2 linked regions of the Homo sapiens genome follow. The protein of the gene in region 1 interacts with the protein of each later gene in a biochemical or structural test. Each region holds a gene or a part of one and is shown in the gene's direction. Other genes may lie near its edges.

What was found.
Region 2: of the proteins of MAPK6 (region 1) and USP20, one has a biochemical effect on the other in vitro, tested with the Homo sapiens proteins (one study listed by BioGRID).

The regions. Positions count from the first base shown.
Region 1 is NC_000015.10:52,021,929-52,025,741, forward strand, and holds part of MAPK6 (mitogen-activated protein kinase 6), read left to right. Parts: intron 1-3,813. UniProt on the Homo sapiens protein: Atypical MAPK protein. Phosphorylates microtubule-associated protein 2 (MAP2) and MAPKAPK5.
Region 2 is NC_000009.12:129,838,300-129,842,112, forward strand, and holds part of USP20 (ubiquitin carboxyl-terminal hydrolase 20), read left to right. Parts: intron 1-3,813.

The DNA.
Region 1 (3,813 bases):
CTTGGTAATAAGATAAATCTTTTGACTGATTTTAAAACAGCCAACGTTTAGCAAGGTGGCTTAAAATAAGATTGAGAGGGGGAAAAAGATTGAGAATGGCAGTTTAAGAGTGGGGCTGGGTGCGTTGGCTCACACCTGTAATCCCGGCACTTTGGGAGCCTGAGGTGGAAGGATCGCTTGAGGCCAGGAGTTCAAGACCAGTCTGGGCAACATAACGAGACCCTGTCTCAATTTTTAAAATAAAAGAAAAAAAATTTCCCACCCCATCCTCTGGTTTTTCTGTGTATACTGTTTATTTTTCCAAAGGGATTTGAGGAGTTTGTGGACAGTAAAGTGTTTGTTGTTTTTGTGAGACAGGGTCTTGCTCTGTCACCCTGGCTGGAGTGTAGTGGTGCGATCACTGTTCACTGCAACCTCTACTTCCCGGGCTCAGGTGATCTTCCTGCCTCAGCCTCCGGAGGAGCTGGGACTACAGCTGTGTGCGACCATGCCTGGCTAGTTTTTCGTATTTTTTGTAGAGATGAATGTTCACAGTGTTGCCCAGGCTGTTCTTGAACTCCTGGGCTCAAGCAATCTGCCTGCCTCAGCCTTCCAGAGTGTTGGGATTACAGGTGTGAGCCCCTGCTCCCAGCCCATAAAATGTATTGTTAATGTGAATTAAATTTTTGGAACTATTTTGGAAGAGTATTGCATGATTTATACCTAGAGGTTTTTTTTTTACAAAGTTTAATTCAAACTTAAAAAAAATTTCCTACTAGAGGAAACATAAAAATACAAATATAAAAGTATTGAAAATTTTCAGAGCATCACATTACTTAGAGGTTTAACGTATTTTCGGCATTGTTTTCAAATATAGGTAATTAGCTGTAGTGCATAATTCAGAGTTTAAAAACAAACTGAGGCCGGGGGCAGTGGCTAACGCTTGTAATCCCAGCACTTTGGGAGGCTGAGGAGGCAGATCACGAGGTCAGGAAATCGAGACCATCCTGGCCAACATGGTGAAACCCCGTCTCTAATAAAATACAAAAATTAGCTGGGTGTGGTGGCACGTGCCTGTAATCCCAGCTACTCAGGAGGCTGAGGCAGGAGAATCGCTTGAACCCGGGAGGCAGAGGTTGCAGTGAGCCGAGATTGTGCCAGTGCACTCCAGCCTGGGTGACAGAGCGAGACTCCGTCTCAAAAAAAAAAAAAAAAAAAAAACCGAAAAACAAACAAAATAACTGGATATCTTAGCCTGCTTCCTGTCTCCAAGGTACTGCTTTATGAAATGCTGAGCCTTCTTACCACTGCTATCCAGTTCTTTGTTACATTTGAACCTTGTGTTACTCTAGGTCCCCTGTTAAAATGGAAAGAAGATGCCTCAGAAGTAAATTCTGTGTGGCATTGTTGGCTGCCTTCATTAGTTCCTTCAGCCTGTTTTGTGGGCTGTTGAACATTACACTACAACCTGCCAGTGGTGTGGGAATTTTGCTCATTTTTATTGCTGAGAGCCTTGACTGAGACTTCACAAAAACAACTCCAATGTTACTGTAGTTAATGGCATTTTCCAGGGGTTGCTTTCATGTGAAGCTGATGCTTTTAAGGTGACAGTGATTTGGGCCTAGTCCAGCATTGATTGGTTTTTTCACCTCCATGAACTGCGTATTTGGAAAATAATGTGTGTCTCTCTAAGAGTTTTTTTGTTTGTTTGTTTTTTGTTTTTGAGACGCTGTCTCCCTCTGTTGCCAGGCTGGAGCGCAGTCGCGCCATCTCGGCTCACTGCAACCTCCACCTCCTAGGTTCAAGCGATTCTTCAGCTTCAGCCTCCCGAGTAGCTGGGACTACAGGTGCGCACCACCATGACCAGCTAATTTTTGTATTTTTTTTAGTACAGACAGGGTTTCATTATGTTGGCCAGGATGGTCTCATCTCCTGACCTTGTGATCCGCCTGCCTGGGCCTCCCAAAGTGCTGGGATTACGGGCATGAGCCACCGCGCCCAGCCAATAGAGTTCTAAAAGTTTTGTCTTTTATACATGTCAGTCTTCTAAGTCCATTTCTAAAAAATTGTTCAGAGATTGAATGTTTGTATAGCAAATACAATTTCCCATTGATTTTCGTTAAATTTGGTATTTTTTTCACAGAAAAAAATGGTATCATAAAACTTGTTTTTTAGAATCCTAGCATTTACCTCAGAAAAGTCTGCCTCTGCAGAAAGTGCAAATCTGTATGCATTTAATTCTGTACAATCATAAAACTTTAAAATATTAGTGTTTTGGAGGGGTCATGGGCATTATCTTGCTTCATTCATGTACATCGTTTGACAGCTAAGGAAACCAAGGCCTGAAGAGATCTAAGATCTTGGTACTGAAAGTGTGATTTCTGGACCAACAGTATTAGCATCACCTGGGAACTTGATAGACGTTAGAATCTTGACTTCATCTCAGTCCTACGGTCCTACTGAATTAGAATCTTAGAATCTACTTTTTCTTTTTCTTTTTTTTTTTTTTTGGAGACGGAGTCTCACTCTGTCACCCAGGCTAGAGTGCAGTGGCACGATCTTGGCTCACTGCAAGCTCCGCCTCCTGGGTTCACGCCATTCTCTTGCCTCAGCCTCCTGAGTAGCTGGGACTACAGCTGCTGCCACCGCGCCTGGCTAATTTTTTGTGTTTTTAGTAGAGACGGGGTTTCACCGTGTTAGCCAGGATGGTCTCGATTTCCTGACCTTGTGATCCGCCCGCCTCGGATCCGCCCGCCCGCCCAGCACTCCCAAAGTGCTGGGATTACAGGTATGAGCCACCGCGCCCGGCCTTCTTTTTTTGTAAATAAGAGGCACAATCTTGCCCTGTTGCCCAGTTTGGATTGGAGTGTAGTGGTGTGATCATAACGCACTGCCACCTGGAACTCCTGGACTCAAGTAATCCTCTCACCTCAGTAGCTGGGACTACAGGCATGTGCCATCATACACTGCCTTTTTTTTTTTTTTTTTTTTTTTTAAGAATTGGAGTCTCACTGTGTTGCCCATGCTCGTCTCAAACTCCTGGCCTCCTAACGTGCTGGGAAGAACCTGCATTTTAACAAGATTTTCAAGTCATTCAGTGCGCATTCAGTTTGAGAAGCACTGCTAAACGATGCATACACCTGGGCAACATAGTGAGACCCTGTCTCTACAAAATAAAATAAAATTAGCCTGTTGTAGTGGTGCACACCTTTAGTCCCAGCTACTTATGAGGCTGAGATGAGAGGATTGCTTGAGCCCAGGAGGTTGAGGCTGCAGTGAGCCGTGATCGCACCGCAGCGTTCCAGCCTGGGCAACAGCAAGAGACCCTGTCTCAAAAAATACGTAAATAAATAAAAATTAAAATGATGCATACATGGTTGCTCAGCTCGTTAGTCTTCTGAGTTGCTCTTTCCACTGGCCCTTCTGAAAAAAGTCAAATGGAAAATTTGGAAGCTAATCACTGCCCAGTTGAACTTTCTATGATGATAGAAGTGTTCTGTGCTATCCAGTGAGGTAGCCATTGGCCATGTGTGACTGTTGAATACTTGACGAGCAAGTAGTGCACTTGAGGAATTGAATTTTTTATTTAATTTTAATTCCTTTAAATAGTTGGGGCTGGGCGCCGTGGCTCACGCCTGTAATGCCAGCACTTTGGGAGGCTGAGGCGGGCGGATCACGAGGTCAGGAGATCGAGACCATCCTAGCTAACATGGTGAAACCCTGTCTCTACTAAAAATACAAAAAATTAGCCGGGTGGCGGGCGCCTGTAGTCCCAGCTGCTTGGGAGGCTGAGGCAGGAGAATGGCATGAACCCAGGAGGCGGAGCTTGCAGTG
Region 2 (3,813 bases), on another chromosome or scaffold:
CCAAAGTGCTGGGATTACAGGTGTGAGCCACTGTGCCCGGCTAACAACAAATATTTAAAGGCAGGAAAGTGGCAGTGCTCTTTGGCTCCAGTGAGCAGTCATGGCTCAATAAATAGAAATTTCAGGAGAGCCAATTTCCATTGATTATAAAGACTTAGGTTTGTAGCAACTAGAGCTGCCCTCTGGGAAAAGGGTGATTTTATCATCAACGACTGCTCAAACTGGGTTTGGAGAACAACCCAGTATGGCTTTTACAGAGCAGAGTTGTGCCTTAAGGGGAAGATGCATGGTTTCTAAACCCCTTTAAACTCTGAGATTGCATGGGGGAAGGCAGCTGCAGATCATGCTGCCTGAAAAGAGAGGATCTGATTTCAGGCCCCAGAAATCATGATTTTCCTAGTTCTTAGTTTCCGCATCTCTAATGTGAGTTTTTTCTAAGGTTTCTAGTCTGAGCTTCGAGACTGAGTTTCTGCTCATGCTTACTCACCACTGAGTGTGAGGCTTTTAATGACCTGGGCCAGTGACTGGCTGCAGCCTAGGGTAGCCCCAAACCCACGCCTTCTCCAATTAAGGGACTCTTCCGGACAGAGCTCAGAGCAAAGGGTAGTAGCAGGCTTTGAGCTGCAGGGAGATACTGTCATATCCTAGACTGAAGGAAGTTAAGCTGAGCAGAAAAATGCTCTGAAGAATGACTCAGAAGAGGCTCTTGTGAGGAAGCTTCCTTGGAGTACGCGTGTTTGGATTTGGGGAGGTGAAGGTCGTCCCCATGCCAGGCTGGCCGGGGCTGTTTGTGACATCGTGGAGCTGAGTGTTCAGAGCATGGGCTTCAGGGCAGGTAGTCGTGGGTTCGAATTTTGGTTCTGCAGCTCAGTAGCTGTGTGACCTTAGCCAGTTATTCCACTTCTCTGAGCCTCGGTGTCTCCATTGTTAGTGATGGAGATGGATTTAGTTTGGAACCTTGCCACCTCCCAGGGTGGTTGTGAGGGTCCAGTGAGGTCACATGTGAGAACACCAGACTAAGATGTTAGTGTCAGTTCCAATATTCAGGGCCGTGGGGCAGGGGGAAGGGCGATGAGGAGACACAGAAGTGTGTGGGCAGCAGAGACTGTGGAAGTGTGGAGGCATGGGGAGGCCTGAGGGCTCTGCTTCGAGAGTCAGAGGATGGTGGCCTCCGAGTGAGGACTGGGTTAAGGGAAGGGGTGGGTGTGTCTGGGACTTAGGGAGAATGCTGTTGTGTGGAGGTAGAGTAAAGACAGCAGGAGGGAGAGAAAGGGTGTGCGAGGGCCAGAGGGGACTGTGGAGGGGGTGGGCACACACCCTGTGCGGGGCTGGGGGTGTGAGATGGCTAATGTGGTTGGGGTCAGCGTGGGCAGGGCTGTGGGCATCGTTGTGTGGGTGGGAGGCCCAGAAGTGTCGCCCTCCCCATCCTGAGGGACTGGTTCCTCGCTGGGAGGAGGAGGATGTAGCCAGAACCTCTGGGAAAACAATGAGTAACAGGCACCAGAGGCAGCCAGGTCCAGATGTGCTGCCTACCTAGGACCACAGGCTGTGCTGGCTGGTCCCTCCCCTGCCCTTCCTCAGGCCTTGCCCCTCCACTTTGCCCCTGTGGGTGGAGTGGCACTTTCCCCCACCCTGGAGGCCCAGGGAAGGAAAGCTGCCTTTATGAGCCTGAAGCATCTTGGAGGTCTCCTGGGGCCAGCAATGGTGGGCTCTTTGCCAAAAGTCTCAGGCCTTCCTCCCCCCATCCTGTGCTCTCCTGCCCCAAGAGAGGAGGCTCTGGTGGGCCGGGAGGGCGGGGCACACGCTGCACCTTGCTGACTTGTTGTACAGTAGGTCCTACTCTGCGTGGCTGCACCTGGAAGCACGTTCTTTCAGCTGCACAGGTGTCTTTCCCTTTTGGCCTTTATGAAATGCCTGCTGTGCACACTCCATATATTTGCACAGAGGCACAGGTGGGACGGAAAGAGTGGGGAAAGCAGACACAACCTGCTCGCTTCCTGCTGTGTTGCTTCCTGTCTGGGACCTTCCATTCCTCCTCTGTGAGATGAGAAACAGCCGCCCTTGCCCTAGAGAGTGGGTGAACAAAGCCCTGGGTACCAGGTCTGGAGGCTCAGTGGGTGCTGGGTCCTGGATCCTGCGATGGGGCTGCCTGTTCCAGAAAACCCGCTCCCTGCTCCCACCTCAAAGGTGAGAAAGGGAATCTATTTTTTTAAAAAGTCAAACTTAAGAAAAATTACAAGAATACAATGAACTCCCACATACCCCTCACCTAGATTCACGAATTAGTAACATTTGCCTTATTTACTCTAACTCTAATCTCTATAGTTATTGTCATAATTATTGCTGATTCAGGTAGGAGTAAGCTGCAGACATCACAGTCCTTTTCCCCTAAATATCCCAGCGGGAATTAACTAAGAATAAGGATATTATCATACATAACCAAAGCGTGAGTTCCACCTTTAGAAACTTTTTTTTTTTTTTTTTTTTTGAGATAGGGTCTTGCTCTTGTCACCCAGGCTGGAGTGCAGTGGCGCCATCTCAGCTCACTGCAACCTCCGCCTCCCAGGTTCAAGTGATTCTTCTACCTCAGCCTCCCGAGTAGCTGGGACTACAGGTGCCCACAACCATGCCCGGCTAATTTTTGTATTTTTAGTAGAGACGGGGTTTCACCACGTTGGCCAGGTTTGTCTCAAACTGCTGACCTCTGGTGATCCGCCAGCCTCAACCTCCCAAAGTGCTGGGATTACAGGCGTGAGCCATCACTCCCGGCCTAGAAACTTTCACATTGATGGAATCATGTATTTGTTTCCCAGACCTGCCATAACAAAGTACCACAGACTGGGTGGCTTAAACGACAGAGATTTATTTTCTCACAGTTCTGGAGGCTAGACGTCTCAGATCAAGGTGCCGACAGGTTTGGTTCTTCTGAAGGCCCTTTCCTTGGCCTGCAGATGGCCATCTTCTCACTGTGTCCTGGCTTGGTCTTTCCTCTGTGTGAGTCCGGATTTTCTCATCTCATAAAGATACCAGTAAGATTAGATTAGGGCCTGCCCTAAAGATCTTATTTTAACTTAATTACCTCTTTAAAGACATTATCTTCAAATATGATTACATTCTCAGGTCCTGGTGGTTAGAACTTCAGCATATGAATGGGGGAGAGAGAACAATTCAGTCCATAACAAATACTATGATCTAACAGGCAGTCCACACTCAGGCATGCTGGTTGTCCTGGGGATGTTCTTTGTGGCATCCCCCCACATTGACCCACAATCCAGCTTTGTTATGTCTCCTCAGTGTCTTGCCTGGAACAGTTTCTCAGCCTTGGTGGAGAAAGGGAACCTTCACGTTGCAGGGAAGCAAAGGTGCTCAGCAGGAATGGGGGTTCAGAAGCGCAGGCTGCCCCAGGACAGGGAAGCTGTTGAAGGGTTTGCTCTAGTCCATGAAGTTGCCTTTCCTGGCTTTTTCTTTGATGTCAAAAGCACCAGGAGGTGAGCTTAGATCTCAGGAAGCGCACCAAGAATCCGTGCATGAGTCCCCTGCGGTGTGTCTGACTCCATCACCATGGCGCCTGTTCGTTGCTGGGCTGGTTGGCCTGCAGAGCCCTGAGTGGTCTCATGGAGGGTGCCCTTCTGAGTGACCTTGAGCATGTGACTTCTATTCCTACCAATTTCAGTGTCCTAATGTATAGAACAGCCAGTGACACAAATTATAGTAGTAAACATTTTTTGAGCATTCTTGTCATGCAAATCAATAAAAAATCTGAGCCACCCAGAAAGTCCATGAGGCCCTAAGTCATTCAACTTAGCGTTTACT